Homo sapiens: one gene and its partners. The protein of the gene in region 1 purifies or fractionates together with the protein of each later gene. This does not show direct contact. Each region holds a gene or a part of one and is shown in the gene's direction. Other genes may lie near its edges. The genes, in order: PCCB, LARS2 and SCCPDH.

Region 1 (3,752 bases):
GATCTGGGAAGGGCTCATGATCAACTTTAGCAGTTTTCTGTGGCTAAAAATGAGAAATATAAACCATGTTCTTTGTCTTGAAGACCTGCCTGTTAGTGGGAGAAACAGATGGTCAAGCTCTCAACAGTACAATTCCAAATTCCTAGAGCAGTGGTTCTTAAACTTTAGCAAGCAGATCAGAATCACCTAAAGGTCATCTGCTAAAACAGATGGCTGGCCCCAGCCCCAGAGTTTCTGATTTAAAGGTCTGGAGTAAGTTCTGAGAATTCGAGCTTGCATTTCCAACTCACTCCCAGGTGATACTGAAGTTGCTGGATTGACAAGATTCCCTCCTTGATCAAACATTGGTCAGGCTCTTCTGAGCTCTCTCTTTGACTAGGCCTGAGTGTGGGCTCCCATGTCATTCCTTGTGGAATTCCATTTTAGCAAGAAACTTGCCAAGTCAGTTTAGCCAGAATCCTCCATTCTTGATATCTGATTACTCTCCATATCTGGTTTTGACCCATACCGCCACCATCCCCCAGGTGATGTTCAGTTACCCTGACCTGCCTTGGGCAGGAATCCTGTTAGGTCAATTTAGCCAGATTCCCCGCCAATGTTTCCTCTTAGTAATTTTCCATCCACTGACTTCCACACACTGCCCCTTAGCTATAAATTACCACTTTGCTATATTCAGCCCAATCGCTCTGACTTATGGCAAAACTCTATCCCTACCTCTGTCAGATTGGGCCTGAATAAAGTTTGCCTTACCATTCTTAAACATGAATAATTAAGTGTCATGAATAGTTTTTTCTTTAATGGGATCCATACTTTGAGAACTACTGATTAGAGGTTAAGGGTCCTGTGCTCATTATCTGGCACATATTAATGATAGGTCTCTGAGTTTGAATCCTGGCCAACCACATTGTCAGTCTTGGCTTTTTTTTTTTTTTTTTTTTGAGACAGGGTTTTGCCCAGGCTGGAGTGCAGTGATGCAATCACGGCTCACTGCAGCCTCGACTTCCTGGGCCAAGCCATCCTGCCGCCTTAGCCTCCCGAGTAGCTGGGGTCACAGGTGCAAGCCGCCATGCCCAGCTAATTTTTAATTTTTTTGTAGAGGTGGGGTCTTACTATATTGCTCAGGCTGGTCTTGGGCTCCTGGGCTCACCTACCTCGGCCTCAGTCTTGCCTCTTGATCAAATCACTCATCTCTCTGTGCTTGATTTACCTCATCTGTGAAATCCAGATAGTAAGCTAGTGCATGGTAAGTGCAAAAAGCAACACCTGGCACAATGCTTAATAAATGTTGGTTAAATCTTATAATCATTTTCTGTAGGAAGTGGGACGACAAAGTTAAGGGTCTAGGTGGTCAGAGAAGAGCAAGGACTATGTCCCTTTTTTGTGCAGCCAGGCAGGCCCTGTACTTTTTCTCTGCGCGACCCTCCTCGGGCAGCACCGGGTCTCGAACTCTCACGCCTTACTCCCAAGCAGGTTCTGTAGTCCAGCCCCCGCGGCTCCCTACAGCCAGCCGATGCTGCGCAAGCGCCGTACCCACGCTTTAGCACATGCGTACTCAGGTGCGCCGGTAGGGGACGCGCCGGCACAGCAAAAATGGCGGCGGCATTACGGGTGGCGGCGGTCGGGGCAAGGCTCAGCGTTCTGGCGAGCGGTCTCCGCGCCGCGGTCCGCAGCCTTTGCAGCCAGGCCACCTCTGTTAACGAACGCATCGAAAACAAGCGCCGGACCGCGCTGCTGGGAGGGGGCCAACGCCGTATTGACGCGCAGCACAAGCGAGTGAGTCCTGAGGGGCCTAAGTGAGTCCCGCCCCTGGCGTCCGCGACCTATCACTGCGTGCCCGGCTTGCGGCGTCCGAGGCCTCCCTGCCAATCCGCACGGTGCCTGGAGGGGCCGGAGCAAGGGTGTTCACCTTGAAAACCTGTAGCGTTTCTCGTGGAGGCGGGTATAACCAGCAGAAGCACCTGTGTGCTTTTTCATACTGTTTAACCCTTGGGATTTAGACGGATCTGGCTCGTCTCTAGCCAGCTCAACACTTAACATAAGCTTTTGGGCAACTTATTAAATCTCTGTGGGTCATTTTAATAATAATTCTTCCTTCACAAGTGTATCGTTAGACCATAGATAGCAAAATGATAGGCGCTCAGTAAAAACCATGTGCTTATTCTCGTGCCCCATGAAAGAGTGATGGTAGGTTCTTTCTCCTTTGTGGAAGCAGGAAAACTGAACTTGGGCATACTCCACTAACATGAAATGGGGGATGTGCGCGTGCAGGAACTTGTGGAACTTCTGCCCGCAGAATGCCTGGTCGAGCTCTTTAGGGCCTTAGCATGCCTCGCCTTGATGGGTAGCAAAGGCACGTGTCGGAAGCAGGTGGCCTTTCTGGGAGTGCGCAGGCTACTCTCGATGTTTGGCTGGACTGAGCAGTTGAAACACTGCCACCCACCGCCTGGGTTTTGAGGCGAGAATCCAGCTGGCCTTCAGAGATAAGCTGGGCGGCCCATTTTGGAGAGGTGATCCCTGACTTGAAACCAGGCTTGCCCAGTGTGTCCGTGACTGGTGGGTGAGTCTGGACCGTTGTGCTGAACGAATTAACCAACGGGAAGGTGCAGAAGTGAAACTCTTACAGATGAAGAGTATTCAGGCACAACTCACAACCATGAGGGAGGCACTGGGGGAGGGATGGGGTCTTAAAGTGAGGAGATTTGAACAGCTCTATATTTGTCTAATATTGATTCAGATGTCATAAATTCGCATTTGACAAGGGTCCAAAGGTAACAGTTCCTTTTGACACTTGAGAGTGAAATGTAAATTTAGTGATGGTTTGTGGTGCTAGGAGTGCTTTCTCTCCCCTGGGGCTACTTCTAACCTACTCTGTTAGGGCTGAGGGAGATGTTAGATCATCCTCTGGAAAGGCCTGTCAGTGCTCCTGTACACTCTTTCTGTTGGGGCCTATTGCTCAATTCTTCCCTGGAACATCGCCTAGCCCTTTCCCAGGTAGATCCTACTAGGTTTAGATGAAGCCTCCAGAAGCTGTTTTTCTTTTGCCAAAGTTAACTTAGGAGGCTGATTTAATATGAACCCCCTCCTGCACCCCTTTTTATTTTTATGTTTTGATACGGAGTTTTGCTCTTGTTGCCCAGGCTGGAGTGCCATGGTGCGATCTTGGCTCATTGCAACCTCTGCCTCCCAGGTTCAAGCTATTCTCCTGCCTCAGCCTCCCAAGTAGCTGGGATTACAGGTGCCCACGACCATGCCTGGCAACTTTTTTTTTGTATTTTTAGCAGAGACAGGGTTTCACCATGTTGGCCAGGCCGGTCTTGTACGCCTGACCTCAAGTGATTCACCCACCTTGGCGTCCCAAAGTGTTGGGATTATGGGTGTGAGCCACTGCACCCGGCCCTGCACCCCTTTTAAAACAATTTTTGACCATTTCCGTAGATTTTCCCAGAAGAGGAATTAGTGGGTCAAAGGGTGTAAGTTTATTTATTTTTTTTGAGACAGAGTTCACTCTGTTGCCCAGGCTAGAGTGCAGCAGCTCACTGCAACTTCTGCTTCCCAGCTTCAAGCAATTCTCCTGCCTCAGCCTCCAGAGTACCTGGGGTTACAGGTATGTGTCACCACATCTGGCTAATTTTTGTATTTTTAGTAGAGATGGAGTTTCACCATGTTGGCCAGGCTGGTCTTGAACTCCTGACCTCAGGTGATCCACCCGCGTCTGCCTCCCAAAGTGCTGGGATGACAGAATTTTTTTTTTT
Region 2 (3,652 bases), about 91 Mb from region 1:
GAGCTTGCACCAGCAGGAGTCAGCACTGTCTCCAAAGCACCATGTTAACTCCATGGCATTTTTGTCCCAGCAAGCTTGCTTAATCAAGGCGGCGGGGCACCAGGGCTCATCTTGACCAAGCTTCTGAGCTCATGACCGTTGGTGGGTGGCACTTTGAGTGGCCCTGCCATCCAGTGCTCTGAATCTGGGCACTAAAATGAGATAGAATTGGTCCTGGTCTGAATTCTCAGACACTGAAGGCCAGGGAGGATCCTTCAGCCTGCCCTCAGAGGAATCCATCAGGGTGCAGTGAAGTGTCACATCAATTCACAGGTGTTTTTCTCTGCTTAGTTATACCAAGTCAATCACCCTTATGTTGCACGCTCTCTCTTTCTCATTTACTGATGCTGAATTCAGCTGATGCTCTCCCTGGGGTGCTGAGATGGCAACAACGACTGTGGACCTTGACAACTCGGTTTATTGAGGCCAGGGCTTCTGGGAAGTCTCCCCAGCCTCAGCTGCTGAGTAACAAGGAGAAAGCTGAGGCCAGGAAGCTCTGGGAGTACAAGAACTCCGTCATCTCTCAGGTCAGAAACTCTCCAATTCCAGGGGTTAACTCTGTAACCAAGCACTCTTTGGGAACCTTTGCCTGTGGTCTTTGCTGCCCTCCCTGCCTTGGGTTGGGCCACTGTGGGTCTTCCTTCCTGGCAATGGCGGTCCTTCTTGCTTTGATTGATTGGCCCTACTGTTTTGGGTACTTTACCAAGGTGGATCAACAGTGCATATGTTCTAATGGAAAGAGATGCCCCCAGGAAATGGCTCTCTGATGATGTCTCACATTTGTCCATCCTGGGTCTCAGGAAGCTGCCACTTTCCATGTTTCCACATTTAACACATCCAAGCAGAGAACCAAATCCAGGATCACCCTGTCATCCAGGATGACACCGCATATGTTACATTAACAGAAATACAATTTTAGAGTTGGAAGGGGCATTAAGAAACTATCCTCTGTAGCCTCCTCATTGTACAGATGGGGACAGAGATGATGTCCAGATATCTTGCCTAACGTCACACGGCTAGTGAGGAACTGAGCAGAGATTAGAATCCCAGTCCTCCACATAGTGAGGACTTTCCCACTCAGTTACTTTGTTACACAATATCCATGTGAACTATTGTGGGTTAATTTCTGCAAATCTGAAGTCATTGTAATGGGTATCTGATATCCCAAATTCTTCTTAAGCTGATTTAAAAAAAAAAAAGTTATGCTGATTCAGACATAAAGTTAATCAGTGTCGCTCATCTGCACTCTGATAATGAACACAATGATGCATGGCAGGTTTTTGCCTCTCTGGTTTGTATAACCTGAAGTGGCCCTGGGTCCAGCATGGTCTTATTTGTTGACACTTCTTCAGCTTTATTTCTGGCCTCTGTACCCTCTCTATGTGGAGGAACAGAGCTCCCTGAATGAATGTAGGGGTCTGAGTGATGCCTGAGCGATTGAGTTCATACCACATATTTTCTCCCTGGATTTGGCAAATTCTTCTATTCTGTCAGATAAAAGAATTAGGTTATTTCAACAAGTTGGAAACTCTTGACATCCTTAAAGATGTGTTACTTTTCTGTATTCTTGCCTATAGTCAAAATGGAAAAGCACAGAAACATGAAAAAGCTGACAAGCTGTGTTAATGTTCTTATGTTGACTGTACATTTCAAAATGTAAAATTGACAAGGCGCAGTGGCTCACACCTATAATCCCAGCACTTTGGGAGGCCAAGGCGGGCAGATCACAAGATCAAGAGATTGAGACCATCCTGGCTAACATGGTGAAACCCCGTTTCTACTAAAAACACAAAAAATTAGCCTGGCGTGGTGGCACGCGCCTGTAATCCCAGCTACTCGGGAGGCTGAAGCAGGAGAATCACTTGAACCTGGGAGGCAGAGGTTGCAGTGAGCTGAGATCGCACCACTGCACTCCAACTTGGGTGACAAAGCGAGTCTCCGTCTCAAAAAAAAAAAAAAAAGTAAAATTAACCTTATCCCATATTCTAAAAACCGTCACTGTGAAGCAAAGTCACATAACCAAGCAGAAGTGGCATCCTTTATTCCTGTTTTCTGTTATGTTGAGTTTACCCATCAGTGGGTCCTGCGTCCTATTCATGTTACTAGCATTGCTTTTTTTTTTGACAAAGTCTCACTCTGTTGCCCAGGCTGGAGTGCAATGGCGCAATCTCAGCTCACTGCAGGCTCCACCTCCCAGGTTCAAGAGATTCTCCTGCCTCAGCCTCCCAAGTAGCTGGGATTACAGGTATGCGCCACCACACCCGGCTAATTTTTTGTATTTTTGTAGAAATGGGGTTTTGCCACATTGGCCAGGCTGGTCTCGAACTCTTGACCTCAAGTAATCCACCCACCTCGGCCTTCCAAAGTGCTAGGATTACAGGTGTGAGCCACTGTGCCCAGCCACTAGCACTGTTTTTCTAAGCACCTACTATGAGAACCAACAGTATCCCAGATATGTGGAAGAATAGTCTTAAACAGTGGAAACAGTGTTGACTTTGAATTTTAAAATATTTGTGTAGATGAAACATAGCGATTATTTGAGATAGTAGATATATTTATAAATATCTTTGCATCCCATTCATTTTCCTTTTTTTTTGTTTTGATAATTCAGTCTTTTTGTGGAAAGCTTAAAAGAATTTTGAAATAAGTAAATAATTGAACCTTTACTAATAGGTGACCACCCATTTCACAGAGGACTTCTCACTGAATTCTGCAATTTCTCAGCTGATGGGACTCAGCAATGCCCTCTCGGTAAGTGGCCTGTCCTCATTTGCTGGTAGCAGAGGAGGGAGGGAGAGGTGTGGCAAGGGGCCCCACAGGGTCCCAAGAGGGACAGAGAGCACCCCCACTGTGTCACCGCCTCAGTGTGGCTTGATTATCTTAAGGAAACATTTTTCCATAGTCACAACCTAGTTTTATGCTGGAATGTTCTTAAAGATTTTCTGGTCCAAACCCCCTTCTCCCCCAATATTTTACAGATGAGGACATTGAGGCCCAGGGAAGTTAGATGACATGTCTGGTTGATTAGTGACAAATCTAGGACCAGACTCAGGCCTCCCTGTCTTCTGGCTCTTTGCACCCCCGCTGTCTGATTTCATGAATGAATTGTGATACCTCCTCGGCATCATTACATTTGATATTCATTTAACCTGGATGGATCAGGATCGTTCTCACCAATGCCAAAAGTCAGCCTTTTCAGTATGGACTTCCTTCTTGCTAAGTGTGACTACCATTTTTCTTGCCAGGGAAAGGATTTGTCAACAAATGTTCTTAGCTACTGGACAACAAAAGCATTCATTAAAGCTATTAACAAATGCTTTTTAAAAATGAAGTCCTCTCCAAGCTTTTAAGATCAGTGGGGGCCAGGCACAGTGGCTCATGCCTGTAATCTCAACGCTTTGGAAGACCAAGCTGAGAGGATCACTTGAGGCCAGGAGTTCAAGACCTGCCTGGGCCGCGTAGAAAATAAAATAATTAGGCCAGGCATGGTGGCTCACACCTGTAATCCCAGCACTTTGGGAGGCTGAGGCAGGCGGATCACGAGGTCAGGAGATCAAGACCATCCTGGCTAACACAGTGAAACCCCATCTCTACTAAAAAATACAAAAAATTA
Region 3 (3,652 bases), on another chromosome or scaffold:
ACACTCTTGGAGATCAAGACCTGTTATTAAGTCAGCATAAACCCTTGACATATGGTAAAGGGGCTTTTCCTATCATTTTTCTTTTCTTTTTACAAATCCACTTTTACTGGTATTTATTTACTTTTCATTAGTTCAAATCCTTGAGGAGTACAGCATCACAGAGCCGCCGTGACTAGTGGCCTAAGCAGGACGGCTGCTTTGGAATTAGGCACACATTGTGCCACTGTTTCCGTGGGCACACGTTACCTTTCTCCACCTTACTCTGGTTTTGTTTGGTTTGCTGCCAGGAGTCAGTATTATTCTTTGTACACATAAGCGCATTTCCTGCCCAAATCAAATCTCATTTTATGTCAGCCATAAATACCTTCAGTTTTAAGAAGAGCTGTGTCCTCCCTTTGGTTCTGGAGATCCTGCTGACGGCAAAAACGGCCTTGGACCACAGCTTTCCAGGCATACTTGTCATTTAGAATTCCTCCTCCCAGCAGGCCTCCGGGCTTCAAGTTGGCAGGAACAGCAAGGGGGCTTTTCGGTAGATGCTGCTGGGACAATTGAGTATCTACTTGGAGAAAAAATGGAATTGGATTCATACTTTTGCACCCCGTACCAAAATCAAGTTTAGATGGATTGTGGATGCCCTCACGGTTGGGAATGGCTTTTACAAAAAGACAAAGAGGCATTAAATGTAATGAAAAAGTGATACGTTTGTGTACTTTTAAAATTGAGAATGTTTCCCAAAACACACGATTAAGAAAGTCAAAAGGCTAGCTGCAATGTAGGAGTTACTTACAACACGTGGTAAATCCTGACATCACAATTTTGAGCATAAGAAGCCAAACACTCAGTAATAAATCTTGCTTGATTGCATTTCTGTAGAGCTTAGAAACAGGCAAAACTAATTGTACTGTTTAGGGATGAATTCTTAGGTGATTAAACTCTAAAGAAAAGAATTTTTCTTGATTACTGTAAAGGCAGGACGGAAGGAGGGCCTTCTTAGTTGCTGGTTACCTGTAGTTCTTGACCTGGATGTTTACATGTACGTTGGCTTCATAACATACATGAATATACAATTTAATAAAATTGTATTAGGTACGTCTCTATATTTTTCTGTGAAACGCAAATAGTTTTTTAAATTGAATGTAATTTTTTCCTTTTCAATGGCTTAGTTGTATAAGAAAATATGTTTAGATTTTTAAAAAGCTGTTTTCTCCTGGTGTTTGGAATCTTTACATTTGTAGAGATTCACATAGGCCCTTTTGGCTAGGCTCAGATTGAGTAGATAACAAATCAAACCTTTAAGACTTTAGTTCTGTTGTAGTTTTAATAAAACAGAAGAAATAAATCTGTACCAGAATGAAAGTTAGATTTGGTATCTCTGCTTTTCAGTATCATCAAAGCTGAGATAGGAAAACCTGAATCTTTGGATGGTTTTATTGTTTCTCTTATTTTGTTTATTAACAATGAAAGGTACCTTCATATCTGCCTCCCACATATCCCTCTTTGAAAATCTTGTGACAGAATTAGTTTTGAATCTTTCTGAATTACTCTGTTGACCTAAACAATGTAAACAACATAGAAGGAAGGACATAATACAATTATGTACAATCAATATAATAAATGAAGTTTATTCCTGTAATAGAGAATTAAAAGGCCCACCTAGAGGTTGGGAAAGAAAGGTCAGTGCTAGGCCGGGCGCGGTGGCTCATGCCTGCAATCCCAGCACTTTGGGAGGCCAAGGCGGGCGGCTTGCCTGAGGTCAGAAGTTCGAGACCAGCCTGGCCAACATGGTGAAACCCCGTCTTTACTAAAAATACAAAAATTAGCCAGGCATGGTGGTGGGCACCTGTAATCCCAGCTACTCGGGAGGTTGAGACAGGAGAATTGCTTGAACCTAGGAGGCAGAGGTTGCAGTGAGCTGAGATCGTGCCATTGCACTCCCGTCTGGGTGACAAGAGCAAGACTCTGTCTCAAAAAAAAAAAAAAAAAAAAAGGGCCAGCGCTGTGATAGTAAATTCAGAGGTCGTGTCCTCTCCTGGGGTCTCAGCCACTCGTTTCTCGGTGGCGCTAGAGGTAAGGGTTGGGGAAGCTGTAAAGAGTATTGGTAGAATGGAAGGCACTGACAGCCCAAAGTCTCATGAAAGGATGAAAAATCAGTGAATAAATGAGAGTCTGAGTAAGATCAGGCAAATACTAAGGACTCTGTACTGGCTGTGATACCAAAAAGAAATCAAGGGATTGAGGAAAGCAATTAAAATACAAATCATTATTAGTGAACTTTAAATGTTTTAAACAATTATTTTACTAAGACTTCAGTAGGAAGACAGATCTATAACTTGGGGCTAGAGTAAGAGGTGTTGGAGGTAGACGGGGAACCAGGTGTAACAGGATGGAGAGATGGACAGTACACAGTGTATGTATGCATAAATGTGCACACGGACATATCCAGAAATGTTGAGGAATTTGTGTAGGATCGAGAGAGGATTAGGGTGGCTATTCCTGCAGATCATATGGGGCAGAAAAAAAAGGATTAGAGTGGCTGATCTTGAAGGAATATGGTCAATTAGTTGAGTAAAATTGATGAAGTAAAACTAAATAACTTATTACAGAATATAAAGAATGATAGGAGGGGAGAAGAAAGGGCTTCTCGGTGTAAATATTGGGTATGATCAAGCTAATGAATGTGACTGCTCCCTAGCTGGTCATGAAAATTCTCCTCAAGATTATTAAATCAGGGATTATGTCTTGTCCAAATATAAGTGAAATATTGTTTGTAACAATGATAAGTTACTTGGCTTTACATTTTAGTAACTACCCTTTCATGTTTCTTTAACTCTTGAAATATTTTATTAGGGGTTGAGCATTCATGATGGTACCTGGAAGTCAGCAATTTATGGTTTTGGAGATCAGAGTAATTTGAGAAAACTAAGAAATGTATCAAATCTGAAACCTGTCCCGCTCATTGGTCCAAAATTGAAGAGAAGGTAAATTAACTTAAAATCCATTTTTTATATATCTAGTCTAAGTATATTGTTGTTGGGTTGGCTATTAATAAAGTATGTTACTAAGAAAAGCTTGGAGACTAATTTGTAGTAAGTTCAGAATTGTTTTCACAGATAAATAAGATATAATTAATCCATTACCATATGCTTGAGATAAATAAGATATAATTAATCCATTACCATAAGCTTAAGATAAATAAGACATAATTAATCCATTACCATAAGCTTAAGTACTTCGTGTGTAATAAAACATGTGAATCCTAGGAAATAAGTGAATCTTATGATGACTTTTCACTATCAATATAGAAATTAACTGTCAACTAAATTTTATGTGAGAACTTTTTTTCTTTTTTAAAAATTTATTTTAGTTTAGTTTTATACTGCAGGACATATGTGAGAAGTTTAGAGGTAAGAATTTAGGGTTGGGCTGTTGAAAGGAGCGTTCTGGTTTTTTTTTTCTTTTGAGACAGAGTCTCTCTTTGTTGCCCAAGTTGGTCTCAAAGTCCTGGCCTTAAGTGATCCTCCTGCCTCGGCCTCCCAAAGTGCTGGGATTACAGGCATGAGCCACCATGCCCTGCCACTGATTTGCTTATTCAGACATTTACCAGCCAAAGTTGTAATTGCAGGAAATGCAAAATATTCATAGGTCTGTCTTG

What was found.
Region 2: the proteins of PCCB (region 1) and LARS2 purify together in Homo sapiens (affinity purification with mass spectrometry; one large-scale study listed by BioGRID and IntAct). This does not show direct contact.
Region 3: the proteins of PCCB (region 1) and SCCPDH fractionate together in Homo sapiens (co-fractionation; one large-scale study listed by BioGRID). This does not show direct contact.

Annotation. Positions count from the first base shown.
Region 1 is NC_000003.12:136,248,786-136,252,537, forward strand, and holds the start of PCCB (propionyl-CoA carboxylase beta chain, mitochondrial isoform 1 precursor), read left to right. Parts: upstream 1-1,554; 5' UTR 1,555-1,590; coding exon 1,591-1,773; intron 1,774-3,752. UniProt on the Homo sapiens protein: This is one of the 2 subunits of the biotin-dependent propionyl-CoA carboxylase (PCC), a mitochondrial enzyme involved in the catabolism of odd chain fatty acids, branched-chain amino acids isoleucine, threonine, methionine, and valine and other metabolites.
Region 2 is NC_000003.12:45,517,507-45,521,158, forward strand, and holds part of LARS2 (leucine--tRNA ligase, mitochondrial), read left to right. Parts: intron 1-396; coding exon 397-566; intron 567-2,712; coding exon 2,713-2,790; intron 2,791-3,652.
Region 3 is NC_000001.11:246,755,379-246,759,030, forward strand, and holds part of SCCPDH (saccharopine dehydrogenase-like oxidoreductase), read left to right. Parts: intron 1-2,847; coding exon 2,848-2,978; intron 2,979-3,652.